Homo sapiens: one gene and its partners. The protein of the gene in region 1 purifies or fractionates together with the protein of each later gene. This does not show direct contact. Each region holds a gene or a part of one and is shown in the gene's direction. Other genes may lie near its edges. The genes, in order: JAZF1, EPC2, MBTD1 and ING3.

The links.
Region 2: the proteins of JAZF1 (region 1) and EPC2 purify together in Homo sapiens (affinity purification with mass spectrometry; 2 studies listed by BioGRID and IntAct, with this or other methods). This does not show direct contact.
Region 3: the proteins of JAZF1 (region 1) and MBTD1 purify together in Homo sapiens (affinity purification with mass spectrometry; 2 studies listed by BioGRID and IntAct, with this or other methods). This does not show direct contact.
Region 4: the proteins of JAZF1 (region 1) and ING3 purify together in Homo sapiens (co-immunoprecipitation; 2 studies listed by BioGRID and IntAct, with this or other methods). This does not show direct contact.

Annotation. Positions count from the first base shown.
Region 1 is NC_000007.14:28,177,772-28,185,891, reverse strand, and holds the start of JAZF1 (juxtaposed with another zinc finger protein 1), read left to right. Parts: upstream 1-5,096; 5' UTR 5,097-5,314; coding exon 5,315-5,429; exon of another isoform or gene 5,430-5,435; intron 5,436-6,001; exon of another isoform or gene 6,002-6,062; intron 6,063-8,120. UniProt on the Homo sapiens protein: Acts as a transcriptional corepressor of orphan nuclear receptor NR2C2. Inhibits expression of the gluconeogenesis enzyme PCK2 through inhibition of NR2C2 activity.
Region 2 is NC_000002.12:148,639,943-148,647,755, forward strand, and holds the start of EPC2 (enhancer of polycomb homolog 2), read left to right. Parts: upstream 1-4,808; 5' UTR 4,809-5,075; coding exon 5,076-5,228; intron 5,229-7,813. UniProt on the Homo sapiens protein: May play a role in transcription or DNA repair.
Region 3 is NC_000017.11:51,256,950-51,264,899, reverse strand, and holds the start of MBTD1 (MBT domain-containing protein 1), read left to right. Parts: upstream 1-4,850; 5' UTR 4,851-5,044; coding exon of another isoform or gene 5,045-5,065; exon of another isoform or gene 5,066-5,101; intron 5,102-5,693; 5' UTR 5,694-5,757; intron 5,758-7,950. Other genes in the region: UTP18 (U3 small nucleolar RNA-associated protein 18 homolog), read right to left, coding at 1,514-1,626, 3,974-4,315. UniProt on the Homo sapiens protein: Chromatin reader component of the NuA4 histone acetyltransferase complex, a multiprotein complex involved in transcriptional activation of select genes principally by acetylation of nucleosomal histones H4 and H2A.
Region 4 is NC_000007.14:120,953,673-120,960,825, forward strand, and holds part of ING3 (inhibitor of growth protein 3), read left to right. Parts: intron 1-1,886; coding exon 1,887-1,952; intron 1,953-2,487; coding exon of another isoform or gene 2,488-2,499; exon of another isoform or gene 2,500-3,308; intron 3,309-7,153. UniProt on the Homo sapiens protein: Component of the NuA4 histone acetyltransferase (HAT) complex which is involved in transcriptional activation of select genes principally by acetylation of nucleosomal histones H4 and H2A.

The DNA of each region.
Region 1 (8,120 bases):
TTTGGGGGAGGGAATAGGGAAGAGGGAAAAAGAATGTTCCAGACAGGCTACACAATATTTGCAAAGAAAGGCAAGGTGGTTTTTGTTGAACAAGTGAGCGCATTTTGAAAACTAAATGACAGCATGCGGTGGCTCATACCTGTAATCCCAGCACTTTGGGAGGCCAAGGTGGTTGAGTCCAGGACTGCGAGTCCAGCCTGGGCAAATGGCAAAACTCCATCTCTATAAAAAAATACAAAAAATTAGCTGGGCATGGTGGCGTGCACCTGTAATCCCAGCTACCCAGGAAGCTGAAATGGGAGGATCGCTTGACTCCAGGAGGTCGAGGCTGCAGTGAGCCGTGATCGTGCCACTGTACTCCAGCCTGGGCAACAGAGTGAGATCTTATCTTAAAAAAAAAAAAAAAAAAAAAAAAAGAAGAAGAAGAAAGAAAACTAAAATGATTTGGTACATCTTGAACTGTCAGTACATGTGGGGAAACTGTAGGAGGTAAGGCTGGGATCAATTTTGGTCACTGAAAAGCAGGAAGCCTATTCTGGTAGTGAAAGTTACCACTAAGACATTCTAGCAGGGGAGATGAGATCATGGAGTATTCCCAATTTGATCTTCTAGTCCAATCTCCAGTGATACTTGTCTGAGTCCAGAGGAAACGGACTGCAATAGTGTGAGCTGGTAAAACCTCAAAAAGCTAGAACAAAAAACGTGCTAGTAGCCTTTGAAGTTATAGAAATCCTCAAGACTGTGCATTGCTGGGTGAGAATCAGTGACGTCTAAAAACACATCTTTGGGCAAAAAAGGCTGTGCAGTCTTTTACAAGCATTAGTGGCCTTAGTGGCTCCATTACAGTCAACAGCAACTGAAGTTATCATCTGAGTGAGCCAAAGCTGGAAAGAAGGGAAATAATAGATACCAGAGCAGCCAAGAGGGTAGTACACGGAGTCCAACCAAGCCACCCCTAGCAGGCCCTTAGAATAGATTGAGGAGGACTTTGCAAAGCACCTAGTGCTCTCTCACGTGAGGAGAGACTGGGCTTGTCTTATTCAAATTGTATCCCTCATATCTTGCGCAGTGGAACAGGACTGCAAGGCTGCACAGATCCCAGGGTCACTGTTCATGCAGTTGCCTATATAAATAGAGCCTTCTGGAGTTGTGTAACAGGAGCTTTGCATAGATGTTCAATCAAGATAGGTTAAAGGCAAAAATGAAACAGTAATTGCTTAGCTGCTTCTGTTAACATTATTCTAAAACTCAGGTTGGGGTGGCCTGAGCAGCAGTGGCTCCCATCAGATTTGGGTTTGGAGTTATCATCTGGGTAGTAGTGTGGCACATAATGTAGTGGAATGGATCCAGGATGCTCAATTAGAACTGCAGTGATTGGGTGGGTGTTTTACTACTTTAGTTCTGGAAAAGTCCTTCAAGGAACTGGAAATAAATGCCAAAACTACGTATACAGTCAGTAGGCAGGAGCAGCCAGGTGGAGAGCTAGGGGCTAACACTCATGAGGTCACTGGTGGCAACTAATAAGAATACCCCCATTACTCATTCTAAGGCTAGCTCTTAATCCTAGGCAAAATGAGACTGAGGGACAAAATGAGAATTAATCACCAGAGAGCAGATAAAGCTGATTCATTTCTGAGCTGGAATAAAATAAATACAGAAAACTTGGTTACATAAATATTAAACAATAAAACCTGGAATAGAAATCATCCTCCTTAGAAGAAGATGGAGCCTAAAAAGAAGGCATCCCTTTGAGCCCAAGGTTGCTGTTGGTGGAAGTGGCAGCCTTAGCATTCAAGAGCCAGGGAACATCAGACATTGTAAGCGTCCACAGACTTGCATGAGCTGAAGAAGACCAAGGTTCATGATCTGCTCCTTCGACACAGTGGTGACAATAGAAGAAATATCTAGTAAACCTGAAAAGCACCTCAAGAGGGACCTGGAAAACAATCTAAAAAGCCAGAGAAAGCTACAGTTGAAGGCAGTATAGAGTTAGATTCAAGATAGAATCTAATGTTCATATAGATCCTCTTGCATCATTAACAGATGTCCACACAGGACACAGGAAGTGCACGGTTTTGATTATCAGTGTATGCCAAAATAAACCAATTCCTGTATGTGGAGGACAGACAGCTGTATGAAGCAGGATCCTCAGTGTCTTCAGTTGGCTCCATTAGACCAGTGGATTCACACCTTCCGGCAGCTGCCCCATCTCGAGGGCACTGGACATGCTGGATTTGGGGAGACTGTTATGCGATCTCAAACCATTTGTAATGCTAAGTACCATATTATGGGGCCACTGCACATCCATACTTTGTGCCTATACATTGGGAGGCACTGGGCTCTGGGGAGAGACAGATGGTTTTCAAGAAAAGGCTCTTAAACCCAGAGAATGCTTCTTGTCTACAGCCACTGTCATATCATTCTGACTTCTCAGTTCCCTCACTTTCCCTCTCCTTTCAAATATTTTTACTTTCCAAATCAGACAGATGTTTTTTGCCAGTACAGAGGTATATCAGTCATCACCTTCTCTCTCGGATGTAATAAGTTGAATTGTTTGTTTTATATATTTTTGTAGCTTAGATGTTGACTTTATCTAAAGGGATATCCTGGAAACAAACATTTTAAAAATATAAGTACAGAAAGGTAAGCATGCTATTAGCAATTTTTAAAAAACTTTGCCTGTGGTTACTATCTATATATAATTTGTCCTTCTATTGTCTATCAATGCCTTCTAAATGCACCATGAGTACAGAGAAAAAAACTGTCTGTGTGCACCTGGGAGAACTTGCTTGATGCCCCGGCCTCAGTTTACCACATCTCCAAAACCAGTGGTTCTGACAGCCAGAGTATCTTCCAGGTCTAAGAGATCACAATCATGTATCTTATATAAAGACCGGAAATGCCTAGAGTGTACAGATTTTTAAAAAGTAGTATGAGCAGAACATCACATAAACAAAGCTTCAGTCACATATGAAGAAGTAGTAGGGTGGATTATTTTCAGGCAAAATGAACTGATTCCTTACAAAACAGTAATAATTATCCAAGGTAGAGAAAATAATTTTGTCTTAAAAACCAATATCTTGATTTACTTTGGAAGTTATTTTAGCTCACTTCATTTTTTAAAAAATCTATTTTTTTCAATTTGGTCTAGCAAGGTTTTATTTTAGGAATAGTGAAACTGACAGGAGGTAGTAGAAAGCCATGCATTAGTGAAACCCAGGCCCCTTACTTCCTTCATCTTTCACCTGCACATTTCTGGCACTTCCCATCTCGGAACTCTCTTGCCTGAACCACCTCTCCACACTCTTGGGAGTTAATAACTCCACGTAGACAATTTTTCCTCTGGAGGACAGAACTGCTACTTCTTCAAAGCTTTTGGGGCTCCCAGATGCTGCATAGTGGGGGTGCCTAACATTCATCTCTAAGGGTGGCTGTTTTGGCATCATTTTTGGCTGAAGTTTTGTATTGCATTTCCATGTCATTTGGTGTGGTGTGTGCCTGCCAGATATTCTGCCTGCTCTCAGCTGAAGGCCTTCCCAGATTGGGCAGCTGAATGTACTGCACAGCTGCCAAAATTCTAATTCAAGATCTAGAATTCTAACTCCTGCTCTTTAGACCCTTGTCTGGCCTTGGCCTCAGTCCCCTGCCAACTCGGTCCCTGGCTCATTATCAGGCCCACCAGGGCCCTGCCCCCACCCTCATTGGGCCCATGAAACCATTCTTGGCACCAAACTGAACTTCAAGACACAGCTGCCCCAGCCCCACCCAAGCCGAATCTCATCTCAGCAAGTTTGTCACCTTGTGAGCTGCAAGACAGAAGAGATGAGAAGAGAAAATGCCACCGGTGATGGTCAGATCATAAAACTTCCTGTAGCAACAGACATATTACATGTGCCTTTACTCTAAGCACTTACATGAAAAGCAAACAATCCCATTATTAGAAATAACACTAGACAGAGATGCATAGAGTTTATGGAGGGAGGAATACTATTTCTCCATGCATCTGCACCAGAGGGTAAGTGAAATTTGCCCTAAGGAAAAATGCTAAATTCAGTATGCATATATTAATATTAATAAAAAAAATGTACTGTTGGGTCATAAACTGCTGATAATGTGTAATATTTCTTAGACACCTGGAAAAGTGCTACTGGAAAATACACACTTTACAGAAGAAATATGACTGCAACTGGAGGAGGGGGTGGGGACAAGAAAGTAATTGATTCTCAGCAAAATGCTGGTTTTCAGGGAAGCTACTAAATTCACCTTAAGTGGTTACCTGGTCAACATTATGCTTTAAATGCTCACAGGATGAAATCGCTTCCTTTTTAAATGAAGAGTCACTATGTCCCTTGCCGTTGTTTCCGCTCCTTCTAGCCTTAACCAATGCACTGTCCTTTCTGCAGTGGCTGAAACGAGGATGGGTTAATTACCAGACCTGAGATGGTGGAGTGGGTGCAGTAGGGTGCTGTAATTTCGGGTGATGAAATTATTTTAGTTTTTGTTTTCCTAGAAGGAGCAGGGAGTATAAAAAACGTGGCACATATGTAAAACACAGGCAAATGCACTTGACAACCAAGCACTCTATTTTGAAATTTAAATAAAGCTAAGATTTTTTTCTGGCCTAGAGGGAAAGCTTCATTAAAATCAATTAGTTAGTACAAACCTCCGGAGAATGTGTACTTTTTCTAAAGAAGGTTTAAAGAAGAAGGTGCACACAATTACCTTTCCTGGGTCCCCTGTGAATGTGTCACACCTAGACAGGTGGCTGAGTACAAAAAAATGTCCCTGAGAGGGACCAGGGTAACTCCCTGAGTTCTCCTCGCAGGGAGGTAGGTGTAATTAATCGATGTGGGTGTATTAAGAACGTCATATACATAACCAAGGAGGCTCCAAACAGATGGCACGGATGGCAAGCCGTAAAGGGCAGGCCTAGCGAGATAAAGTTGGTGGCAGGGCTCGCAGGTGAGGCCTGGGTCCGCGCGCTGAGGTTGGGGCCGCACAGCTGTAGCCGCGCGCCCTGGTCCCTCCTCCCAGCTGCGGCGGCCTTCCCCCCCCGCCCCCGCCCCCGCCCTCCCCCCGCCGCTCCCGACGCCGCCGCCGCAGCCGCCGCCTCCCCTCTGCCTCCCGGTGGCTCCTCGCTCTCCTTCCATCTCTCTCGCCCCCTCTCCCTCCGTCCCGTCCTCGCCGCTCCCCTCACCCCGCCTCTCTCCCCCTCCCCCAGCCCCTCCTCTCCTCACCCCACCCGGCCTCCCTCCCTCCCTCGCCCGCCCGGCGCTCGCAGAGCCGACACCAGGGGGGCTCTCGATGTAGCACCATGACAGGCATCGCCGCCGCCTCCTTCTTCTCCAATACCTGCCGATTCGGGGGCTGCGGACTCCACTTCCCCACCCTGGCCGACCTCATCGAGCACATCGAGGACAACCACATCGGTAAATGGCCCGGGGGTGGGCGGGGGTGCCAGGCGCGCGGAAACTCCTGCCCGGGCGGGGAGCCCCGGAATGGCCAGGGGTGGCCGGCGGGGAGGGAGGCGGCAGGGCGGGGAGGGCGCGTGCGAGCCCCGAGGTGGGGGTGGCGGGATGCGGGGGCGCGAGGTGCCGGGGGGCGGGGAGCGGGCTCGGGTGGGGGAGGGGGCGGGCGCCCCGAGGTGCCGCGGGCGGGCGGGCGGGCGGCTGGGGGACTCAGGGGCGTGCACGCGGGCTGCGAAGTGGTGGGAGCGGGGAGCGCCGCGGCGGGGCGGCGGGGTTGCGGCGGCGGGGCCGAGTGCCGGCGCGCGGGGCGCGGGGCGGAGGGCGCGGCGGGCGGCGGGAGCTGGGCGCTGGGCAGGGTCGCGGAGTTAGTTGGCCCGGGTGGTCGGAGTAGCCCGAGGCGCTGAGGGCAGCGGGGGGCGGGCGCTGCACGCCGCCGGGCGCTTCCGCCCCGGCTCGAGCTGTCAGGGCTCGGCGGCGGCTGCAGCCGCGGGGAGGTGGAGCGGGGGGGCGGGGGTGGCTCCACCGCGGCAGCCATTCCGCTTCCTCCTCCCGCCGCCGCCGCCGCCACTGCGTCCTGTCAGCGCCGGTTGCTAGGTGTGGTGCGTCGGGAGGGGGCCGGGGCCGGCGGCCGCGGGCGGGGGCCGGGGAGCTTGCCCTCTCCCTGGGAGGCGGCCGAGGGGCCCGGGCGGGGCCGGGGACGCGGGCCCGGGGGCTCTGGGTGCCCTCCCCTGCCCCGGCCTGGCGCGGACGCCCGGGCGCTGCGGGCTGAGGTCTTGGGTGCGCCCGCGGGCCGCGCCCAGCGCCCCGGGGTCGACGCGCCCTGGAGGCCCCTGCGGCGGCGCCCGCTGGAGAGACACCCCCAGGGCCCATGGCCGGGCATTTAAATGCACCCCGGCTCTGCGATTTGCCTTTCTAATGGTGCTAGGCCCGAGGTGCGCTGGCTGCGCCCTGGGATCGGCGGCGGCCTGCGCAGCGCCCCGGGCCCGGGAGACGCCGGGGAGGGGGCGCCCCGCAGGGTGGCTGCTTTCCCTTCACGCCTGGACCCCTGGACCTTTCAACAAGTCCTCTGATTTGCAGAAGTCATTGCACACATTTTCACACTTCTATTCGGAACCCCTGCTAAGGGAGGTGGGCCGGGTGCATCTGGCTTAGGCGGTCCAACCACCTGCGGAAGGTGTGACCGACGCCAGCGAGTTGTCCTGCGTGGGCTAGAAGGTGAAGGGTCCGAGCGATGTCCCAATGGGGCTGTCTAATCCAGAGAACCTGTAAATTGCCCCCAGGAAGTCCAAATGAATGCCATGGATTCAGCCATGTGGATGCAGCTCACGTTTCTACAAAGTTGAGAGAATAAATCACGACTGCTGTGTATTTATGCAGGAATAAAATGAGGCAGAACCCTATGCTCCTTTGCTTAGTATAGTGCTGTCTCTGCACACAGTGGCTGCTTAATAAGTGTTGAATGCCTGTTTAGAATGTGATTTGATGGGCCATCCGGAATAGGAGATAATCATGGGAAACGTCTACAAAATGTCTTTCAGAGGAAAATGCTGTTGAGTAATTGTCCAGGTTTTGAAACTTTTCAAGTTTTCAGGCGTCCTTGTAATAGCTTCTTCCATTTCCTCTGCTAAAGGTATGACAGAAGAGCTGGGCAAGTTTTGGTAGTCTTAAAAGCAGTTTAATGGAGCAACCAATTTGCTGATTCATATCATGATTGAATAGTCATAACTGAAAGTGCTTGAAAGTATTAAATCAGATTTTTCATGATGGCTAGTTTAAAATAAAGCGAAAACACCGGTACTGTGAAGTTCTGGTAGAAATGTTACTAGTTCAAGTTCTTCCCCTTACTCCCAATAATAAGTAAAAAATAAATATAGATAATGCTATACATTAATATGTATGATATAAGTAATATAAATAAATAATTTCTCTTGACTTACAGAAGGCTGTCATTGCATATCCCATCCATTCTCGCTAACAGTTATTTCAGAATAAACTATAATTTATATAAGCTGAGTAATAATTTTACCCCATTGCCTACCTACTTAGACAAGCTGGTTAAAAGACAGTATAAATTATATTTATTAAAATGTGTTAAAGACAGTTATCCTTCTTGAGGATTTAGTTTGAGATGGTTTAAAACTTGGTGAATCATGAGGTTTTTTTTTTAAGTGTAGAAATTGTCTTAATATTTTGCACACATTTTTAAAGAAGGTTAAGAGTTTGATACGTTTTCTAAAACTCAGCTTTGAAGTAATGCTACCTCATTCCCAGAAGGCTAGTGTTGTCCTTTTAATAGTGAAAATGTGGAAAAATTAAGTTTACAGCAATAGCAGTGACCTAGGTGAACTGTGTTGCAGGGCTAACACAGTTGAAAACAGTTTGAACCAGCAAACTTTATGAAAAGCAAATGTTAAAATGAACAAACACTTGCAATTCCCAGGATGAAGAGGCTCAAACTATTATACACTTCTGCTGGGGAGAGGCCCTTTACTATCAAAGGCAGCCCTATATGCAGAAAGAAGAACTGATCTTAAGAAGAATAAAAATATCCCAATTAGTAGATAGTGTCATATAAATACACTTCTGATGAAAAGACATGGGTGAAAATATAAAGCATTTAGTCAAAGTTCTAGACAGGTATTGTTATGTGGT
Region 2 (7,813 bases), on another chromosome or scaffold:
TATGAAAATAATATGAATCATCCAGCTAGTTCCATGAATGTAATAGTGTCTTCAGCTGAATGACAGCTGTGCTGAATTTAGAGTGGGTTTCCTCCAAGTGTGGAATTTCTCAAGGGCAAGGTAGCTGGATTGGAAAGGATCCTATTTTTTAACCTCCCGTGGCCTTGCTCCAACAATTGTATTTCTGTTCCAAACTCGGTCATTTTTAAAACCTCACTATCATCCAATTTTATTAAAATAAGTACTTATTTTTAAAAATAATTATTTTACTTATTTTATTAAAACAAGTAGGCTCATATTCATCAGCTCAATGGAACCTAGTGCCTCTCAAAAATCCAAAGTCCAGGCCAGGTACGGTGGCTCACTCCTGTAATCCCAGCACTTTGGGAGGCTGAGGCAGGCAGATCATGAGGTCAGGAGTTCAAGACCAGCCTGACCAACATGGCAAAACCCTGTCTCTACTAAAAATACAAAAATTAGCCAGGCGTGGTGGCATGTGCCTGTAATCTCAGCTACTCAGGAGGCTGAGGCAGGAGAATTGCTTGAACCCAGGAAGCAGAGGTTGCAGTGAGCCAAGATTGCACCACTGCACTCCAGCCTGGGTGACAGAGACTCCATCTCAAAAAAAAAAAAAAAAAAAAGAAAGAAAAAAAAAATCCTGAAATTACATCTACATAGCTTGCTTGCTGTTTGGACACACATAACTGTCCAAGTCAGATTTGTTAGCTTCATCACAAGAGCTTTACTTATTTCTCTTATCCCCATCCAAAAGCCTGAGTGAGCAGCGTCAATCTATTCCAAATGTGGAGCACTGGTTGTGTTTTACGGTCCGGGTGGGGCAACAAATGAGACAGGCTGTCAGTGCAATTCAAAATTGGGTGTTGTGGACCCTCTGGAGCTGTGTGTTTTCAAATCTGTTTCTTTTTTTTTTAGTTACCAAAATGCAGAGCTTTCAGGCTGATTATTTTGGAGTCTATTTGGATCCTTTGTGGAGCTGGGAAGTAAATCGTCAGCTTATACACAAGGTGGCACCCTGTGATTCCAACCAGGTCTGAGAGGAGCGATGCTGCTAAGAAACTGAGCCACAGTCACAAATTTTTATTTACCATCTGCTATTCCCACGGTGGCAAATGCAGAGGTAGAAGTAGATGTTTGGCAGGTCACCTCTCAGTGTAGTCTCTGTCCCTATGTCTCAAAGATGCAGAGCTGCCTCAGAAAAGGGCACTGGAACCACAGAACTGATTCCAGTTGATTGTAATGAATGCAGACCCCACATTCAGATTACATATGGAAAACAACGAAGCTTTATTAGTACTAGGCTCATTCCTGGGAACATAAGGGGGAGGGGTGGAGATGCAGTTCACATACTAACCCAATTAACTTTCAAATGGTTTTGCTGAAACCAGGAGCCAATTAGAAAGAACGTGACATTTGCAAAACTCTGAAATAGTTGAATAGCAACTGTGTTTACTAGTTTTAAGATTCCTTTCAAAAAGTAATTTGTCCATTATTTGGAAGCTGCCTGCCTTGATTATAGTACTGGGAGATGGACACTGGAATGTAATCCTAATTCTAACAGTTATTTGACATTTATTCTAATTTAGACTACATTTAGACAGTGATTTTATTTTGATATGGCTTTAAACTGGTTTTAATTCTTGGGTGCTTATATATTATGCTTGCTGGGCTAAATGCATGTCATTTGGAATTGGTCTAGAGCATATCTGAAGTGGACTGATTTTAGAATGACTATACTTAGCGCATTGTATGTGGAAATTAAAATAGGCTATTAGGCTGCACACCCATTTGAGGCAGGTCTTGATAAAAATATTTCATGAGAGAATTTTTTATTTTATAAGAAGATATTTTTTGCTTTTAGCACTAACAATTATATGAGTATTCAACAAATCAATCAGAAATAAACTTTATGAAAAGTAATATTTATATACAAATAAAAGTTACTTTCCAAAAGTGAACAGTGGCATTCCGGTTTGGGCACTGAATTGGAAGCCAAGAAAACACAGGCTGTGTCTCCGTTGAAAAGTATATTGTGTTATTTGCCTTAAATGGTTTTATTCCCAGCTCTATAATCATTGCCTACAGGGTGAGAAGAAAATGGAGATTTGGGGAAGAAATCTTTTACATGGTCAAAGTAAAAGAACAACAAAGAAACAACCACAACAGCAAAAATCCCTTCCTATAAATTCCAGGTTTCAAAAAGGTGTTTTTGAATAACATTAATTGGTTCTAAAATCTCTATGCACAAAGGTACAAAGCTGGACAACAGGGTAGGCCACAGTAAGAACAAATATTGGCAGCAATAGCTAGGTCAGGTGACAGGCCAGTGAGGTATGTGAACTATAAACTAGAGTGGCATGGGGTCAGTATCAGTGAATTTCTTCATGGAATATCAGTCAACAAATATACTTTAGATGCCTGCCATATGTGAGGCATGGAACTGGGGATACAGTGATTGACAGACAGATGTTGTTCCTGCCCTCCTTGGTCTACTGCAACTTTAGGCTCTGGCTTATGCGCTCCCTTGGCCGTTGGTTGGAAGGTCTTAGTAACTAATTTTGAATTAGCAGCTTTAGAATGCTGACTGGTCAATAAGCTGAAGAGCTTGGATAGCAGGGTAGCACCACTGAGAAAACCAGAGTTTTGGAGTCAGGTCAGACCTGAATTTGAGCCCAGTTCTGCAAGTTGTTGGAATTGAAATTTGGCAAATTATCTGATGCTCAGTTTTCTTATTGGTAAAATTATATTTTTTCATAAAATTATAATAAGAATTAAGTGGAATTCAACTAGTTGAGATAATATATATAACATGTTACTACAATGGATGGTATATTACACATACTTGATATTTCCTTTTCTGAGAGAAACAGTAAAACTAAACATAGGGACTAGAAGAAAGCTATCCTTTCTGAACCTGAGGAGGGCTGGGCATCCAGATGAAAGCTCTGGATGACTCATTTCTTCAACTATTGCTTTTTTCTTCCCTTTCAGGCTTGAACCCAGTGCTGACCCCCTCCCAAGAACTTCTTGTTCTTGCTTCCAGAGGATTGGAACTGTTCCAGGGGTAGCACTTAGAGAGCAGGACATGCCCATAAGCTTGAGGAAGGTACTGCTTACAAGAAATGAGTCACAGCAACTCCATTGCTTCCAACAACAAAGTGGATGAAAAACACTCAAGCCCCACTAAACAATACTCGGAGTTTTGCTGCGACAGACTGGTTAGACTATTTGGACACTACCATGAAGACTATATCCACCATTCTGCCTTCAAAGGAGGAGACTGCAGAGAGAAAAGGGGAAGAGGAACAGGAGGAAAAAGGGGGAGGGGAGGAAGTGGAGGAGGGGAAGAAGGACGTAATAGAGGAAGAGATATAGTTTTATTGTCACATAGAAATGACAGTAGGAATCAATTTTTTCACTGTTGGTCTTTAGGAAATCATCTGACTTTCTCTGAGTTAGAGTATGATCGATTATTAGAAAATGGTAAAATGTGTTAAAAACTCTCTTTGTACGGTTTTGTGAGAAATGTGTAATGCTTAAAGACTAACCAAGAGCCTCTTGGCTAAACCAGGTTGATGTCAACAATAGCTAGTACTTATTTGAGTCACCTTGATTTTCCCTCCTCTTGAGAACTTTCTCTAACCAGTTTAGGCTGCAGTCATGCCTCCTTTCCTTTCTCTGAACTCTCACAATTATTGCCTAGATCTCGTTTGGTAATTAATCATGTGCTACTTACTGCCTGTGTCATCTCTTGTATTGTTTTCTTAAAATATTTACACTTTTTTTTCGGTTGTCACTTATCTTTCCAGCTGTCATTTTCTTCAACTATTTACGTCTCTGTTACTCATCTTTCCAGCCATCCTGGCATCCCATTAAGGTGAAAGCTCTCTGAGGCAGGAACCTTTTCTCAGATTTCTTCGAGTCTTCCACAGCACCCCACATTTGACACACATCTGCTACTTCGCAAATGTGTGCTGCCTTGGCTAAATTTTTAGAAGCTGAACTTTTAGGAAAGCTACTATTTTTGAACTCAGAAAAATACCTACCATCCACTAAACAGCTGTACCGAAGTTTGGGTGACAGGGAACCTAAGTTCACTTGTTGCATCTGGCAGCCTCAAACCATGAACCCTCACTGCAAAGCGAGGATGAACGCGCTGCTGCACCTTGGAGAGCTCTTTCGGACAGGTACGGAGGGGAGGGCGTAGAAGAGGGCTGGCACCAGCAGCGCGGTCCAGTCCTCCGAACGGACTGATGGGACTGATGGGAGAGACCTCTTGCACCTCTCGGGGATGTGCGCCTCGGAGGATGCGAATTAGCTTGCGCACAGGGCGCCTTGGGGATAGCGCTGTCCAAGTACAGGCTTGGGTGATGGCTGGTGGGGTCCGGGTCGACATTTTCCCTTCCCGCTCCCGGACTTCTGCACACACGCGCTGCTCGGCGCAGCCGTCTTTGCCCGGCGCCTTCCTCCGGGACACCCAGCGAGAGGGGTGACCGGGCGGCGGCGGGAGAGGCGCACGCTCCCGGGCGCGGGCGAACTTGCGCACCTGGCACCTGCCACACAGCGAAAGCACCGGCCAGCGAGCGGAGGGGCGCCGCCCCCGCCCCCTCTCCCCGGAGCGGACCGAGACCGAGCACGCTCCCGCGGGCCGGCAGCGCCGCGGAGAGAGTGGGTGGGCAGGCGAGGGAGGGGAAGGGAGAGGAAGGAGGGAGGGAGGGAGAGGGCGAGGCGCGTTCCCGCGACGGGGGCGCGCTCTCGCGCGGGCTGCCGGGATCGCTCGCCGCCGCTGTGGTAATGTCCGCCATGTTGGCCATGGCGCAGGGAGCGGATCGGGCGGGCGAGCGGCGGATCTAGTGTGTGGAGGCGGCCGCGGGCGCGGGGGGCTGTTTTCGGGCGGGGTGGGCGCCCATGCTGTGGCCGGGGGCAGTGAGGAGGAGGAGGAGCGGGCCGGCCGCGCTGCACTGAGGAAGGAGGTGGAGGAGGCGGCGGGAGTCCTCCCCCCCTCCCCGCCCGCCCCGCCGCCGCCGCCCGGGCTGTTCCTGTAAGGCGGGGAGACAATGAGTAAACTCTCCTTCCGAGCGCGGGCGCTGGACGCCGCCAAGCCGCTGCCTATCTACCGCGGCAAGGACATGCCTGATCTCAACGACTGCGTCTCCATCAACCGGGCCGTGCCCCAGATGCCCACCGGGATGGAGAAGGAGGAGGAATCGGTAGGGACTCGAGTGTTTATTACCCCCCCTTCCCTCCTCCCCCCTCCCCTTTGTCAGTCGGGCCTCGCCATTCACAGAGCGCTTTACGCTCGCTGGAGGGCGCCGCTGCCGCTCTAACGCACGGGACTCTACGCCGGCGGAGTAGCGTAAACCCTCTCGGCCGGCGTAGCGCCCGCCCGCGGCCGCCATGTTGTTGCGTCCCAGTGTTGTGATTAGCTCGCAGCGCTGCTTACGCTGCCGTAAGGGGGCCTTGCCGTAAGCGGCGGCCGGGAATGGCGCAGGGGATGCGCTGGCCGCTCTTGGCGTACGGTCTCTGTTTACCTTTCCACCTCCCTCTCTCAGGCGCGGGGCTAATTAATGGCGTGGTATTATTTGGCTAGGCAAGATTATTATTTTTTCCACTTTTAACTTTGGCTTTGTATTGAGTTCTCTTTGAAATGACTGTGGAAGGGTGCTTTCAAAACAAACATCTTCCTCCCAGCAATGTAATCATCCTGGCTCCCCCGCCCGCGAAGGTGCAGCGGGATGAGGCGGTGCAGCACTGCGGCGGGGGAGGGCGGGGGCCACGACTACCGAGCGGGTCGTAGCGTCCGAGGGCCGCCCGCCGGCCAGTTCTGCCGACCCGAGCCGGGCGCGGGGCGGACGGGCTCTGCCTGCTCCGCCTGGACGGCCGTGCTCCGTGCGCAACGTTAGAGAGGAGCCGGGGATGCCCGGAAGCGAGCCGCCGGCGTTGCGTTGTCCTCGAGAATTGTCATTGCGAGGTGGTCCTTAGAAGTTGAGGACCTAGTGCATCTAAATTGGCAGTTGTAATTTTGATAATACAGCACCTTTTGGGAAAATTGCTGCTTTTCCTCCGATGGGTTAAATTTTGCAGACGGTTGGATTTCATCTGGCTTGACAGAGAGTGTTTATGACTCGAGTGGTGTTACTTGCGTGCGAAGTTCATAGTAACTGCACCCTCAAGAATTTCTTCAATGAACCTACAGTCCCGCCTTATTGTCAACCTCGGGTGTGTGTGGATTGGTTCTCTTGCTTCAGTGACTGTCAAAAGGAAGCTCGAGGTTTCAGTGATTGGTTTTCTCTTTTGACTATTAATATTGCAGGAAATGCTTTTATGCCTTCGATTGGCTGGTTGAGTTCTGACCTCATTATGTTACCCTGTTAATACTACTTTGCTCTTATTTAATCACATTTCTCTTTGATGTATAGTTACTTGAAAGTCTTACATTTTCAGTAGAAAATGCATATGGCCGTAGCATCGGGATGAACTTAACTGTGTGTGTACACACACAAATATGTAATAGATATATATACACGCACATACACATATATATTTGTGTGTGCATATATATAAATATGTTTATAATCAAAACCCAGCATTTATCCCTAAGGTTTAGAGCTGTGAGAACTTTTTTTTTTGTATGTGAGAACTTTTTTTTTTAATTTGTTTCTAACGACTCAGTTTTCCATGGGAAGGAAAATTAAAATAAAATCATATTATATACAATAGTTAATTACATTGAACCCTAATAAGCACAACTTTGGATATTTTTGCTATTTTGTGGGTCTTGATCCAAAGAAAGATGGCCTTAAAAGTACCAGTATTGTGTGTAATTACTTTGATCCTATTATTTTAGAACTTGAGTCAAATCTGTTCTAGGCCGGGCACGGTGGGTCACGCCTGTAATCCCAGCACTTTGGAAGGCCGAGGTGGGCGGATCATGAGGTCAGGAGTTCGAGACCAGCCTGGCCAGTATGGTGAAACTCCGTCTCCACTAAAAATACAAAAATTAGCCGGGCCTGGTGGTGCGCGCCTGTAATACCAGCTACTCGGGAGGCTGAGGCAGAAGAATTGCTTGAACCCGGGAGAAAGAGGTTGCAGTGAGCAGAGATCGTGCCACTGCACTCCAGCCTGGGGGACAGAGCGAGACTCCGTCCCCCCCAACAACAAAAAAAAGGAAATCTGTTCTAGAGTGAACAGTTAACTCCTGGAAGGTATATTACTTTTTGCAATCACCAACATACGTGGTCCTTAGTATGCCACATATGTTTTGGTATTTTAATTTAGTAAGATAACTTAGAGTAATTTTTTCATGCTTCATTAAAAATAAAAGTGCTTAACTCGTGTTGCAATTTTTTGTTTATTTGTTTTTTGAGATGGAGTTTAGCTCTTGTCGCCCAGGCTTGATTGCAATGGCGCGATCTCGGCTCACTGCAACCTCCGCCTACCAGGTTCAGGTGATTTTCCTGCCTCAGCCTCCCGAGCAGCTGAGATTATAGGCGCCCACTACCTCGCCCAGCTAATTTTTGTATTTTTAGTAGAGTCGGGGTTTCACCATATTGGCCAGGCTGGTCTCAGACTCCTGACCTCAGGTGATCACCCGCCTCGGCCTCCCAAATTTCTGGGATTACAGGTGTGAGCCACTGCGCCTGGCCGCGCCTTGCAGACTTTTTTTTTTTTTTTTTTTTTTTTTTTAATTTATTACCGAGTCTAGCTCTGTCGCCAGGCTGGAGTGCAGTGGCGCGATCTCAGCTCACTGCAACCTTCGCCTCCCGGGTTCAAGTGATTCTCCTGCCTCAGCCTC
Region 3 (7,950 bases), on another chromosome or scaffold:
ACCAGCCTGGCCAACATGGTAAAACCCCGTCTCTACTAAAAATACAAAAATTAGCTGGGCATGGTGACATGTGCCTGTAGTCCCAGCTACTTGGGAGGCTGAAGCAGGAGAATCGCTTGAACCTGGGAGGCGGAGGTTGCAGTGAGCCAAGATCGCGCCACTGAACTCCAGCCTGGATGAAAGGATGAGAGTCTCAAAAAAAAAAAAAAGAAGACAATGACTAAACACAAAAACACTTCCTCAAAACAAACTAGGTAGAGATATTACCCACTACCAAACTGACAGAGTCTGGAAAAAAAAAACAAATAAACCATTGTGTCTAAGAATGGACTGAAACTGACACCTTTCAATGGGAAGGCAAACTGGTAGAGCCCCATAGCATGCAGTCTGGCAGTACTTATCAAGAACCTTAAAAATAACTGTGCTCTTTGATTAAGTAATTCTACCTCAAAGAATCTTTCTTAAGGCAATAAATTAGAAAATAAAGAAAGGTTTATACATAAAGAGGTGATAAACATTAATGCTGAAATAATCTGCATTAAAGGGAAAAATAAGGCTGGGCACAGCAGTTCACGCCTGTAATCTCAGCACTTTGGGAGGCAGAGACGGGTGTATACTTGAGGTCAGGAGTTCAAGACCAGCCTGGCCAACGTAGCAAAACTCCGTCTAACTCTGTCTCTACTAAAAATACAAAAATTAGCCAGGTGTGGTGGCACACGCCTGTAGTCACAGCTACTCGGGAGGCTGAGGCAGGAGAATCGCTTGAACCCAGGAGGCAGAGGTTGCAGTGAACCAAGATCGCACCACTGCACTCCAGCCTAGGTGAAACAGCAAGACTCTGTTTCAAAAAAAATAATTAAAAAAAAAAAAAGGGAAAAAGAAAATCTACCCAACAATAGCCACGTAAATTATGGTTAATTCACATAATTGACTCCAACATAGCCATTTTAAAATGTCTATTTTTTTTAAGTAGGGAGAAATGTTTACAAAGTAACTTTATGTAGAAAAAGTCAAAATGTTAAATCAAGCATACAGTACATTCTCATCCATGACAGTTCCTATGGTGTGAGCTACCTTCTTTTTAGCCTTTACTCAGTTTCAGGCACTGTGCTAAAAGTTCTACAAGTACTATTTTGTTTAATCCCAACAAAATTCTGATGTAGTTACTATCATTGTGCCCATTTCACAAAGGAAAAAATGTAGGTTCCAAACTGCCCATGGTCAATTAGAAACTGGCCAAAAGAGGAGGCAAATCGAGATCTGACTTCAAACACTGTATTCTCTTAGCTACTGTATACAGCAAAGAGGAGACTGAGACAGAAGTGTGACAACATGCTAACAGCAGTTCTCCCTCGGTGGTGGGATCAGGAACCATGAAAGATCTTTTCTATACTTTCAAATATTTTTCAAATCTTCACATAATCACAAATTGGTAAAAAGAATGATTTTAAAATCTGCAAAATAACTTTTTTAAGTGTACAGAGGGATTCAGAAGAAAAGTTAGGCAACTTACATTTCCTCATCTTCATCTTCTTCATCCACCCAAACTGGCTTCTTTTGAGGTGGAAAATTACCTTTTGCTTCATTCTCCACTTCTGAGTCACCCGAGTCTTCATGTTCTTGAACCTACAGCAGACAAAACACCCTCAAGCACTGAGATTTTCCTATCCCATGACTGCAGACACATAGGCCTTACAGCCAAATGGCTCATAGAATGTTTTTTCTACCACTCTCTGATGAAATAATGGGATGGAATGCTACCATTGCAAATGCTGGAAGCAGAGGCAGAAAATGGAGAAATCAGAGAATGGCACCGACTGGACAGGTGAGGCAAGATGGAACAGTCAAGGAGAAAAAGTCAACACTCAACACGCAGGAAGGAAAACACCAAGTAAGACAAGAACAAAAGATGAGTCTGCAGATGAAAAAAGGAGGAGAAATGTCAGAACTACAGAAATTACAGGACCGGAGGCAAACTAGAGTCAAAGATATCTCCATTTTCCCAATCTGTTTTTGACCCCCTACCTCCTTAAGAAACTTTATACCAGCAGAGAGCGCAATGCCTCATGCCTGTAATCCCAACACTTTGGGAGGTCAAGGTGGGAGGACTGCTTGGGCCCAGGAGTTCGAGTCCAGCCTGGGCAACATAGGGAGATCTCGTCTCTACAGAAAATTTTTAAATTTAGCTGGGTGTGTGGTGTGCACCTGTGGCCCCAGCTAACTACTTGGGAGGCAGAGGCAGGAGGATCACTTGAGCCTAGGAGGATGAAGCTGACTTCTGAGTTTAAAGTGTTCGGAGAATTGTGCAGGTGTAATTTATCTGTGACCAACAAGAAGAGCAACCAGTTACTATTAGCAAAAGGGAGATGGAAGACTAATAGGTGCCGCTACACTCCAGTCTGGGTGACAAAGTTAGACCGTATCTCTAAATAAGTAAAAAATAAATATACCATTAAATCTAAATTCTAAAGTTATAAATTTATACCATAAAGTTTATACTATCAAATCTAAACCTAGGCCGGGTGCGGTGGCTCACACTTGTAGTCTCAGCACTTTGGGAGGCCGAGGCGGGCGGATCACGAGGTCAGGAGTTTGAGACCAGCCTGGCGAAGATGGTGAAACCCCGTTTCTACTAAAGATACAAAAAAAAATTAGCCAGGCGTGGTGGCGCACGCCTGTAATGCCAGCTACTCCAGAGGCTGAGGCAGGAGAATCGCTTGAACCCAGGAAGTGGAGGTTGCAGTGAGCCGAGATGGCGCCACTGCACTCCAGCCTGGGCGACAGGGCGAGTCTAAAAAAAAAAAAAAATCTAAACCTAGACCACAGAATATCCCTTGAAGTGAGTTTGAGCTTCCCAAAACCAATGATAGAAATGTCCAAGTGGTTTCTACTTGCTCTACTACTAGTCTAATAGCCTTCAAACCCAACAGCTCCCACCTCCGTACACTGTTCCTTTTCCAGACGACAAAACCGTCGCACAGTTCAGCATGTTTCCAGTAATAGTTCTGTACTTCCCAAAAAGATTGCTGCCACTTCTCCTACAAGCACCCGAAGGCGGCTCTGGTAAGCAGCTGACATTAACTAGGTCAGCATTTGTGTAATAAACATGGCCTGGGTAATTCTCGGTGAGCTTTCCTCTGCCCCCTTTATCTAAAATTTCACAGGCCTCTACACACGCCCATCTCCCTTTCCCGAATGTCCTTTTTTCTCTTCAGCACTTGTCACCAACAAACCTGAAGTTTACTCGTTTATCTCCTCTATCTTGTCTCTGCCACTAGCACACAAGCGCCAAAAGGCAGGGATTTTTGTCAGTTTTGTCCATTGCTGTGTCTCCTCCAGTGCCTAGAACAATGTCCGGGACTCTCTCAAGAAAAGCCTGGTATAGAATTTAAAGGGATAGCAAAATGTGTGCAAAAAGTATGATCAATCACGCAGGGTTTGCCATTGCCAGAAAGGGTATCTGGCAACTAACAGGTTCACCAATATTTGCTAAATGAACGGAATACACGATCATTCTCAAAACATGGTGGGTCTCATAGTCACATGGGGACATAGTTACAACGGAGATGCCCAGGCCCGTGCCCACGAATTGATTCCATCAACGAAATCGAATTCCTGAATCACAAGGAACTGAGGCAGGTGATCAAAAGACCACCCTCAGTTTGGGAAGAGGCTAGCGGAGTCGAGCAGCAGCGAAAGATGCTCACGACCACAGTTCGCAAAGCAGATACCCGAGCAGCGGCGCCTCCAGGGGCGGAGAAAGACGCGGTCCCCGCCCTCCAGGCACTTTCAGTCTGGAGCAGGGAGGCGAGGGACCCGCAGCTGCGACCCTCCGCGCCCGCGTTCTCGGGCTCCCTCCCACCTGAGCGCTCCCCGCCGCCGCAGGTCGCCCAGGCTCCGCCCCCCGGAGCTTCACCGCCCACCGCGCGCCCCGCCCGAGTGCGCCCAGCCCGCGCGCCGCGGCCTCCCTCACCCTCGGGCCTCGCAGACGCCGCAGCAACGCGTCCTCGTCGTTCTCGACGTCGCCGAAGACCAGCTCCTCCAAGCACCGCTCCACGGCCGGTTTGTCCTCCTCCAGCCTCAGGCGGTTCCGCTGCCGGAGCCGTCTCTCTTCCTCCGCCGCCGCGACTGCAATCGCAGCGGCCGCCGCGCTCGGCCGGGCCGGCGGTTTCCGCTGGGATGAAGGGGCAGGCTTTTGGGGAGGCCCGCCTGGCCCCGCTCCGGCTTTCCAGTCCGGCCTCATTCCGGGCTTCCGCTTCGGCTTCGCTCCGGTTCTCCGGTCCAGTTTCATTCGTCTCCTCCGCTCCGGCGGCATCGTTAGGTTTGAGGAGAAACGCAGGCGCTCACGTGGAACCTCGCTGCGCATGCGCCCAGGCCCCTCGCGGGCCGCCGCCGCCGAAGCCCCGGGGGCCGGAAGGAGCCTGCGCAGCCTCTTGCCACGTGACCAGCACTCCCTCCCTCTACGTAACTCCCGCTCCCCTACCCAGCCCCGCCCCGTGTGGGAGTTCCTCCGGGAGGGCCAATCTTCCGGGTGTAGGGGGAAGCGGCGTGACTGGAGTGGAAAATTTTTCCAACACAATTTCGCAGCTGCAACATATTGAAAGGAGCGCAAGAAACCCCGACTATACACTGGGACGGCTGAATGGAACTTCTGCTTTTCCTCTTGGCTGTAACCACTTGACTTGACACAAGCCCCAATACGCTTTCCACCCTTCGTCTTGGTACGGTCCTTGGAGTACGGAGCCTGCAGAGGGTCCCACGGTGGAAGCGAGAGAGGAGGGTATGTAGGGAAGTGGGCCAATCGGGGCGCGGGTCACGGCGCAGGCGCGCTGGGGAGGGAGGGCTATGCTAATGTTGTTGATATCCTGGGGCCACCCGAGTTAAAGGGGGGAAATCCGGGGGCTGCTGCACCCGCCACCGGTCTGGGCCCAGCCGGGGGCCCCCTGTAGTCGCCGCAGTCCCGGGGAGAGGCACCTGCCCCCAGCCCGGGGAGGGGGCGCCGCGGGCTCGGGGAGCACGGACAACCCCTACCCATGAGGCCCTGATGGAAAACACAAAGGATCTGGTGAGAGCCGAGCGCGGCAGCCGCTTTGTGTGCCAGGTGGGGGGGACGCCTGCAGCTCTCCGACCCCAGGAACCCCGCAGCTCCCTGACCCCGCTCCCTGGCCTGCTTCTCCATCCCACGCCCTCTCAACCTCCGGAGCCCCCCTCCCCCTTCCAGCCGTTAAACGATTCAGGGGTTCCCCTCCCCCCACCCCGTCAGCCTTGGACTCGTTGGGGTTCTCTCCATCTCCTCCACCCTTTGGAAGAAAAATTCGAGAAGAAAGTTTTTCTCTGCGTCCTGCCCCCGCCCCCTGCTCTGGCTAGGGGGGAAAGGCTGGATCCGAGACTTTTCCTTTTTTAGCCACCCAGGGTGGGAGAGTGGAGTAGTCCTCTCTTCTTGGCGGGGAGGGGGAGCACAGTTTCGTTGCTTTGCAGGGGAAGGTGTCTATCTGCCTTGGGGGCAGTGCCGCGAGGCGGTTTGCACGTGGAGGTGGAAATATTGAAAGGGGGCGGGGTGGGCACGTGCGGGAGAGGTGGGAGTGGTGTTTGGGAAGCAGCCTCCAAGGCTGCATATTTAAAAGGGTTTCAAGTCGGTGGACTTCTGTGACCATTGCGTTCTCCTTTGTGAAATAAGAATCCTAACATTTCAGAGTCGGAAGAGACATTAGAGGTCATCCAAAGCAGCCGTCCCCTCTGCAGCCTCTCTGACAAGTGGTAGGTAGTCTGAACCCTGCTTACACCCCTAAAAGCACTGAGAGCTCACTACTGCCCAGGAAAGCCCATATTTCAGTAGTTCTAATTGTTGTCTGCCTACCCTTATTAGACCCTTCAGTCTCATTCATGTCCTGGTTAAGTTGCTCCTTTTTTTACTTCTCAAATTTTCTCTCACATCCTCCTCACCCACCCACTGCTCATTGGCCTATATTTTGTGTGCCAAGAAAGAACAGCAGGGAAGTGGAGGAAGGGGGGTTGAGAGATAGTGAGGGCTAGCCGAAAACTTTGCTGGGTCAGTGTCAAGTGTGCTGGCTTACATGCCTGAAGATGTTTTTCTACAGGAAGCTAAAGAATTACAATATGGGAATTTCGTGCCTGTTTTCTCTTAGGAGTGCATCTTTTTGAAGTTAGAAATTTCAGCGTCATCTCCGTGGTTCTTGTATCACAAAACACATTTGTTTATTACCTAAATCACTTCTAAGGATGTCTAAAACTGAAGTGGTTAGAAGCATCACCTGGTAGAGGGATGATTAGATGATTACCGCCCACACCCGTATTTGACCTGTGTTCCTCGGAAGCTAGTCTTTCCTCCAAGGGCCTCTCTTCCAAATGCTTTTACTCCTTCTTTTTTTTTTTTAAGTAACTATCTTTTATGAGATTTGAAATTTACGAACCATTTTAATACTTGTTTAGAGTTTACAATATTTTTAATTCTCCTTATATTAGCATGCACCAGTACTTATCACTGGGTGGTTGAGATAGTTGAAACTATTGTCACTGGGTGTTTTTCTAACATTCTCCTTCATTTGGTGAGCTATGCTGCCTCTAAAAGTAGTTTTATTGGCCTAAGAATCTTGGATATACCTATTACTCTCTAATGTGGTGAAGTGGGTGTCAAGACATAACAGGTATAATGTAGAAATAATGCATGTGATTTAAAAGCCAGCAAATAAATTTCACCTTAAGCCCCAGTCTCCTATTTAAAAGGTTAGACTCAATTTTTCTCTCCTCCTCTTATAACTTAGAGACTGTTGCTTTGCTCTTGTGGACTTAGACTGTTATTTTATTTTTCATTTGTTTACCTCAACACCAGAGTGTTTAGAAAGAAAATAGCTGTACTTTTTTTTTTTTTTTGCACCACCTCCTTCTCTGAATAACAAGTAGCTTCTATCTATCTAAAACCCCATACTGATTGCTTGTGAGTACCTTGCAAATTATGGCAACATCTGTCTTGAATAAGTATTTATTCATAGTGCCTTACGTTGTTGCGTCATGCTTTTTAACCATCCAGTTTCTAACTTTATGTAATGTTTGACATAAAATATTTCCTCTAAATCTACTCATTAGAATTCAGCTTGTGAAAAAGAATCAGTAGAGGTGTAATAATAGTGTTTTTAACATTTTAATTAATAAGGAGTTCCAAGTTTTTTTCCTGCTTACTTTAAACATGAACTGTCATGACTTAAGTTGACTGACTTTGGAGACATCTGCATTCTAAACATACTAGACAGGAACAACTGGTTTTATTTTTAAGACGCTGCCATATTCTTTAAAGCTGGTTATATGTTGACCTTATTATCTAAACCTTTCTAGATGTTCTAGTGCTGCTTTTGGTCCCTCAATAATGTTGAAAATTAAAACAACATTTTAAATTGTTTTCAAATGTAACATAGTGATCAAAGGAAAATATAAGCTATAGTTTAAAAGTGAAAACAACATATTAGGATAAATACTAAACCACTGAATTACTAAAAGCCAAGAGTGCTCAGTAGTCTGAGTAACCACATTCTAAAATTAGACAAGTGACATTCTTTGGGTTGCTCTTTGTTTCTCAGCTTTTCATCTTTAAAATGTTTGCTAAATAAGATATAACCTTTCACACTTATGTATCATTAGTCTGAGGGTTTCAAAATTCAAGAAAGAATAAAAACATCAGGACAATAAAAGAGAAAGGACTTACAATAGTTAAAACAAGCTAAGATATTTCTCCTAACACCACAGTATTCTTAACTGTGCAAGATGACTTTTGATTTCAGGCAAAAATTGCACATAGATTTAATCATTATTTTTTAATAAACCTTGGCTTAAGGATTTTTTTACCTGCAAATTTAGGATTTCTCTTCTTGCTTTGCTGGAACCCACAATAAAAGGTGAAAAGGAAATAATTCCCATTTGAACAAACCCTGAATATGA
Region 4 (7,153 bases), about 93 Mb from region 1:
TTTATTCTAGTTGAGATAGAGTACTGTATTCCAGTTTTGGCCACAAACTAGGTAAATAAACATGAGCAGACCTTGAAGAATATTTTATATATTGCTAGGTACTTAAATTAGTGGACCCACAGAAGAACGAAATCTTAAAAGTTAGAAGGAATTTAAGAAAGCCTTCTAGTTTAAACTCTAAATTTGCACACGAATTGGTCTGGAAACATAGAATTCTTTGAGGTTTTGTTAGTTTTATAGTGGCTATAGCTGTCTTCCAGAATTGAATGAGTATACACGTACATCTCAAAGTTTGCTTTGAAAGTATGATTGAGTTCATTTAGGGATGGATACATTGGAAAAACAACTTAAAAGACTTGAGTTTGGTCATGATTCTGCTATTTAGCTGTGTGACATTAAATCTTAATATTTCTGAATAATAATGCCTTCCTAAACCCAATGTTCATAGAATTGTTCAAGGATCAACTAAGAGGCCTGGCGTGGTGGCTCACACCCATAATCCTAGCACTTTGAGAGGCTGAGGCGGGTGGATCACCTGAGGTCAGGAGTTCGAGACCAGCCTGGCCAACCTGGTGAAACCTCGTCTCTACTAAAAATACAAAAATTAGCTGGGCGTGGTGGTGGGCGCCTGTGATCCCAGCTACTCGAGAGACTGAGACAGGAGAATCACTTGAACCCAGGAGGTGGAGGTTGCAGTGAGCCTAGATCGCGCCACTGCACTACAGCCTGGGCAACAGAGTGACAGAGTGAGACTCCGTCTCAAAAAAAAAAAAGGGTCCACTAAGGAAGAAATTTGGAAACTACAAATTGAGTAGTTCTGTTATGATATGTTATTTATTCTACCACATGGAGGGAAGATTGTTTCTCTTAGGAAAAAAAAAAATCATAATCTATAACAGAAGTGGTCCTAGCTTGGAAGATACCTGGAGGGACATGTGTTTGTGAGTAAAGACATGTTATATCCACATCCCAGAGTCACTAATCATTTCTTTAACCTGTGGAGTGCACCTTAAGTATACCCTGAAAAGTCTAGTACTCCATGGAAATTCATAGTATCATCTTCTTTCCCCCTCTTTTTTAAAAAAAAATTTAATAAGTTGAGGCAAAATCTAAAATACAGATTGAGTTGTATGAATATATACCTAATTTAAAGTGGGAGTTATAGAACAACTGGAAAATGGGGAAATGCAGATCAGAATCCTTTCAATAGCTGAACTTTAACAAAAATTTTTTAATGGAATGCAAATGTACTTTACAAGTTAGATCAATTTTAGTTAACTTTTTATTTTAAATACTGTTCATTAACTCATATAGCTTTTTCTAGACTTACAATGGCATTTACTTTTAATTATATCCTTTCTAGAAATTCTGAACATCTCCCTTTTACTCTTGGCCATTGTGCATAGTTTCTAATCCTATACCATCCCCACCCTATTTCTAACAGGTTTTTGTTTTGTTTTGTTTTTTGTTTTTTTGAGACAGAGTCTCGCTCTGTTGTCCAAGCTGGAGTGCAGTGGCCCAATCTCGGCTCACTGCAACCTCTGGCTCCCGGTTCAAGCACTTCTTGTGCCTCAACCTCCTGAGTAGCTGGGATTACAGGCGCCCACTACCATGCCCGGCTAATTTTTGTATTTTTAGTAGAGATGAGGTTTTGTCATGTTGGCCAGGCTGGTCCCAAACTCCTGACCTCAAGTCATCCGTCCTCCTTGGCCTCCAAAAGGGATTACAGGCGTGAGCCACTGCCCCTGGCCTCTAACAGGTTTTTTATTACTAAGGTAGGATGACTGTGATAACAAGATATGATAATGAAAATGCAGTTGTATGTCCTGCATATGAATATTTTAAAATGATTAATTTATTTTTGAAATGAAAATGTTTTCATTCAGGACTACTATAAAGCTTTGGAAGATGCAGATGAGAAGGTTCAGTTGGCAAACCAGATATATGACTTGGTAAGTAAAAGTAATGTGCATACTGTGCCATAAGTACTTGAATAACAGATTATATCTTAAATTGTATTGGCTTAAATGTAGTAGGAAGAAGCAACTAAAACTGAAGTATTGCTCTCTTGATCACATCTAATTTGACATTTCAGTGTCCATTTTATGGTTTCTTTGTGGAAAAGTCAGAGTGGTTAGTTAATGTGGTGAGAACTGTACATTTTAGCAAGTCTATACGGCGGTAAGGTGGTTTCTGATGTTAGATATTTTTTAAACAAGAATTAATGTTTAACTTTATTTTACTAATCCTTGTCTTCTTAAGGTAGTGTGTTTACTTGCCTTATACATCATTTTGAGATTGTTTCTGTGGTAAAATACACCTAAGAAGACTGCTTTGACAAGAGTTCTTGGTAGTCTGATTAAAATGAAGAAGAATCATTTGAATCAGTGTTTATGTGAGTGATGTTAAAAGATCGTATGTAACAGCTGTGTCAGTTGTTTAAGCAATACAAGATGACAAACTTTAAACAAGATTCTTTTTTTGCAGCAGCACTTCTAAAAGATTGAAAACACCAAGAAGATAGATAGAATATTCACTATTTCTCATATTGATGCAATTGTGGTGCTCTTTTTCATTTGAAACATCTTCTCCTAAAATATACACTTTAAGAAATAGTCATTTCTGTTTTTGCATTAAAGTAAATTAAAGCAGAAAACACATGCTCACTTTTGGCTAACTTCAGTGTATAGATTTCATACTTATGTTGTCTTTCCTGGGTACAGATTTATTACTGAACAAGTACGTGTAAGTAAAATGTCATTGGTGAGCAGGACACAAGATAAAAGGTGAACACCACATATGGTGTGAATTGTAAATGCTTATACCACAAACTTGAAAATGTGTCATGTAGAGCCATGGAAAATGTCTAGTTGTTTTTATGTAGTACACACATTTTAATGGTGCTAACAACCTGGGCTCTTTTGTTCATAGAGTTATTCTGAAAAAAATTTCATAAAAGACACTGCCTAAAGATAGGTAGAATAGGCTGTAGCTTGATTTACTGTGGAATAAAAACCAAAAAAAAAAAGGTCTTAATTGTTTCAGTCTTTAATTATGTCTATAAACTTAGAAAAAGGCATTTACATTTGAATCTAGACTAATTTGTTTAGTAACATTCTTCCTCATATTCAATGACTGTATGTATCAGTCCTTATTTAGAGACTGCCTGCTTTTTAATTCATATAGCTCTTTGGTTCTATTCTTTGTTTTGTTTATTATTTTGTTGTTTTATTGCTTGTTAGACCTTTACTAAAGATATTTTGTGTATTTAGAAAAAATATAACATAAATATATGCTTTTTAAATATGTGTGTGTGTGTATTCATCTCTTATTTAAAAACCACACTGTTCATCCACTCTGTGCCTGAAAAAAGGGAGCTGTACCTGGGTCTAATGGAGGAATAAAAAGTAAATACTAGGCCGGGCGCAGTGGCTCACGCCTGTAATCCCAGCACTTTGGGAGGCCGAGGAGAGTAGATCACGAGATCAGGAGATCGCGACCATCCTGGCTAACATGGTGAAACCCCATCTCTACTAAAAATACAAAAATATTAGCCGGGCCTGGTGGCGGGTGCCTGTAGTTCCAGCTACTCGGGAGGCCGAGACAGGAGAATGGCGGGAACCCGGGAGGCGGAGCTTGCAGTGAGCAGAGATCGCGCCACTGCACTCCAGCCTGGGCGACAGAGAGCGACTCTGTCTTAAAAAAAAAAAAAAAAGTAATACTAGAAATGGCTCTTGTCCTCAAGGTGTCTGTAAACTACTGTTGTGGGGCAGACATACCTGCAAACTAAAGTGGAGAATCCATACAGAAACATGTAATAAACATTAACCAGTTGAATATTAAGGGGTGTCTACTGAAAAACATTGAAGTAAGTCATGCAGAGTTACTTACTGATTTCTTAGAGGGTATAGGAAGAGTTTTGAACAGAGTTTGTTTAGAAAGTCAAGGTCCTGAATTAGGTATTGTATTGAGGGGAAAGCATTTCACTCAGAGATAATGGCATAAACAGAAGGAAAGTACAAATTCAGAAATTAATTGAGAAGGGATAGATTCCAAGGCTAAAGAGTGAAGTAATAAAGGCGAGGTAGTAAATTTAATAAAGCATAAGAAATACAACAGAAAGCAAGTGTCCATAATGGATCCATGCAGATGTGAGTTCAAACCCTAGCTCAGCCATTTCACTGACACCATGACTTTGGAAAAGTTATTTAATCTTGAACCACAGTTTCCTGCTGTAAAAAAGCAATATTAATTTATACCTTACTGAAGGGTTTGCATTAGAATACATACAATGCTATTAGTTTGGCAGATAGTAGGATTTGCTCCTTCTTTAAGAACTCAGTCCATCTCATTTCCTGAACTGGAATTTTCTATTTTCCTGAAGCCACTGCTTCCCTTTCAACTCTGCCAAGTGGAAGCTGCTGTCTCTCACTCTCCTAGTATCTCTGAGGCTTCTTTTTGTCTTTTCTTCTTTTTCTTCCCCCACCCTTTCTTTTCTGCCCCCACCTTTGCTCTACCCTCTTCCTTTTTATTATTTTTTTTCTTTTTCCCTTTCTCCTTCCCTGCCTTTCTTTTTAAATACTTTAATCCTATTTCAGGTGAACATTATATCCTTAATATAAAAAATCCCTTCTCTTTCAGACTTAGTGATAATCATCTCAGTTACCCTCTGCCTCTTATCACTATAATTTAATGGCTTCTAGGTGAGGCTCAGATTGAAAAACTGGTACCCGGTTCACAGTTCTCTGTTGCAATCATCTTATACTACCTAGTCATCTACTTCTTTGGCTTTTGTAAATGCTAATCCACTTCAGTCGCCACAGACTGAACCTGATCATCACTTGGAATTGCCCTGCCTCTGATACTTCTTGCGTCTACACTTCCTCCTATTTTATCAGCCCTTTCCTATTCAATCAAGAGACTGGTTGAGCTCTTGACCACTTTTCTTACAGGTACCTTCCACATTGTTGCTGCCTTAGGGCATGTTTTTACTTGCTGCATCTTTGCTTCATCACTTATGCCTTCTCTTTTTCATCTTTAGCCTCTTTTCTTTCTATTGGCTTCTATACCACAGCATTTAAACATGCTCAGGTCTTCCTCATATTTAAAAAGAACTCAGGCAATCTAATATAAATCGTGTCGTGACCGTGACTCTGCTTTAGCTAGTGTAGTCTTCCTTAATTTCTCATTCAGACTCTTTGACACTCCCTTACCTTCAATTTATTCCTAAATTTATGGCAATTGGGGTTCTATTTACTAATCCTCTATAACTTCATTTAATGAATTCTTTATTGCTAAATTCATCAGACAGCTTCAATTCTTTTTAACTGACCCTATTGGTAAATTTAATGCTTATTGCCATTCGTTTTGTCTTGCCATTCTTGACCTTGTATTACCATGTGACTGCCTGCTCTAGATGCTCCCACCTTTGTGACCTTTCTTAGTCTCCTTCTTGGGTACAGCTCATAATGATGGTGTTCCTCAGGGTTCTGTCCTTGACCTACATGGTTTCTTACTCTTCAAGTGGTTCTCACATGAAGGTGATTGTCTTCCCCTCTTCTACCTGCCAAGAGGGCCAGGAAGAACAAATTCCACAGCGTAAAGACCTGTTCTTTCAAATGCAAGTTTTATCCCCAACCTTTGCACACCACCCAAGTTGAGAGACACTCCTCTATTGCAATTCCATGTGTTCTCTTAGTGTTAACAATTATACGTTAATTATTCCTGAAGCCCAAGCTGTTTCTTTGAGTCTTTTAATCTTAGCTGACTATTCCCAGGCCCTAGAACTCAGTGTTTTGAAATTTAAAACTCAAAGCATCTCCTTTTTCTTCTCTAACTACCCTCCCCTGCCCCATCACCAACTTTTTGTTTCTAAATCTCACATGAACCACACTGACCTTGTAGTCATTCAGATTAGGGCACTGAAAGTCACCCTATACTCCTTGTCACTTCCTCACATTTTTTTTTTTTTTTTTTTTTTTTTTTTTTTTTGAGACGGAGTCTCACTCTTTCGCCCAAGCTGGACTGCAGTGGCGCTATCCCGGCTCACTGCAAGCTCCGCCTCTTGGGTTCATGCCATTCTCCTGCCTCAGCCTCCCGAGTAGCTGGGATTACAGGCGCCCACCACCACGCCCGGCTAATTTTTTGTATTTTTAGTAGAGACGGGGTTTCACCGTGTTAGCCAGGATGGTCTCGAACTCCTGACCTCGTGATCCGCCCGCCTCGGCCTCCCAAAGTGCTGGGATTACAGGCGTGAGCCACCACACCTGGCCTGGCAAACTATTAAATAAAGACTATTTTAGATTTCGATAAGTACACAGGAGGAAATAAACATTGTAGAAAGAGAGGAAGGGGGAGAAAGGGAGAGACAATTGAATAACTGGCGAAGGCTGTTAAGAATGTAGTCTAAGGAGATGACGTTTGAGGTGGTACTTGGAAAATAAGAAAGAACCACCTGTTGGAAAAGCTAAGGAAAGAATGTTTCAGGCACGTGGTATACCAAGGGCAAAGTTTGGAGTGGAAAAGACTTGGCAAGTTGAACCAAGAGAGAGGCCGGGGTGGTTGGTCTGTGGTCTGTAATGGGAAAGGAGCAGCATGAAAGGAAGCAGGCAGGAGCTAATGCATGGGGGCCTTGCGAGCCAGTCTAGGAGGAGAGTGATTCTTAGTCTAAAGCGGTGGGAAGCCAGTGAAGGACTTTAAACAGAGGCGTGGAATATAGACCTTAAAAGAGATTTTGTGTAGGTATGCCTTTGCTTAAACATTATATTATAGGAATTTTAAATAAGCATGTATTACTTTTACAGAATTTATGGTACATCACCATAGTATGCAATTATGTTTGATTTTATCCCTCAGTGTTTTATATGGCGTTGCATTTTGTTGTATTTTTTCATTGAAATATTTTATTTACTTTTAAACCAGTAGTAAACATTTTTTTTCCTGTGACCATCACTGCACTGGTCACCTCATTTATTAAGGAATAAACCAAACTACATATTATCAACATATTATCAATGAAGAAATTTGTTTTAGGGTTCCGGTAGAAGAAACTGACAGTTTATTTTAGTAGCCGTTTTAGTGAAATTTGACTAACACACACAAAAATCTATCCTGTTAAAATAGTTTTGTTCTAGAAGCATGATACTCATAAATA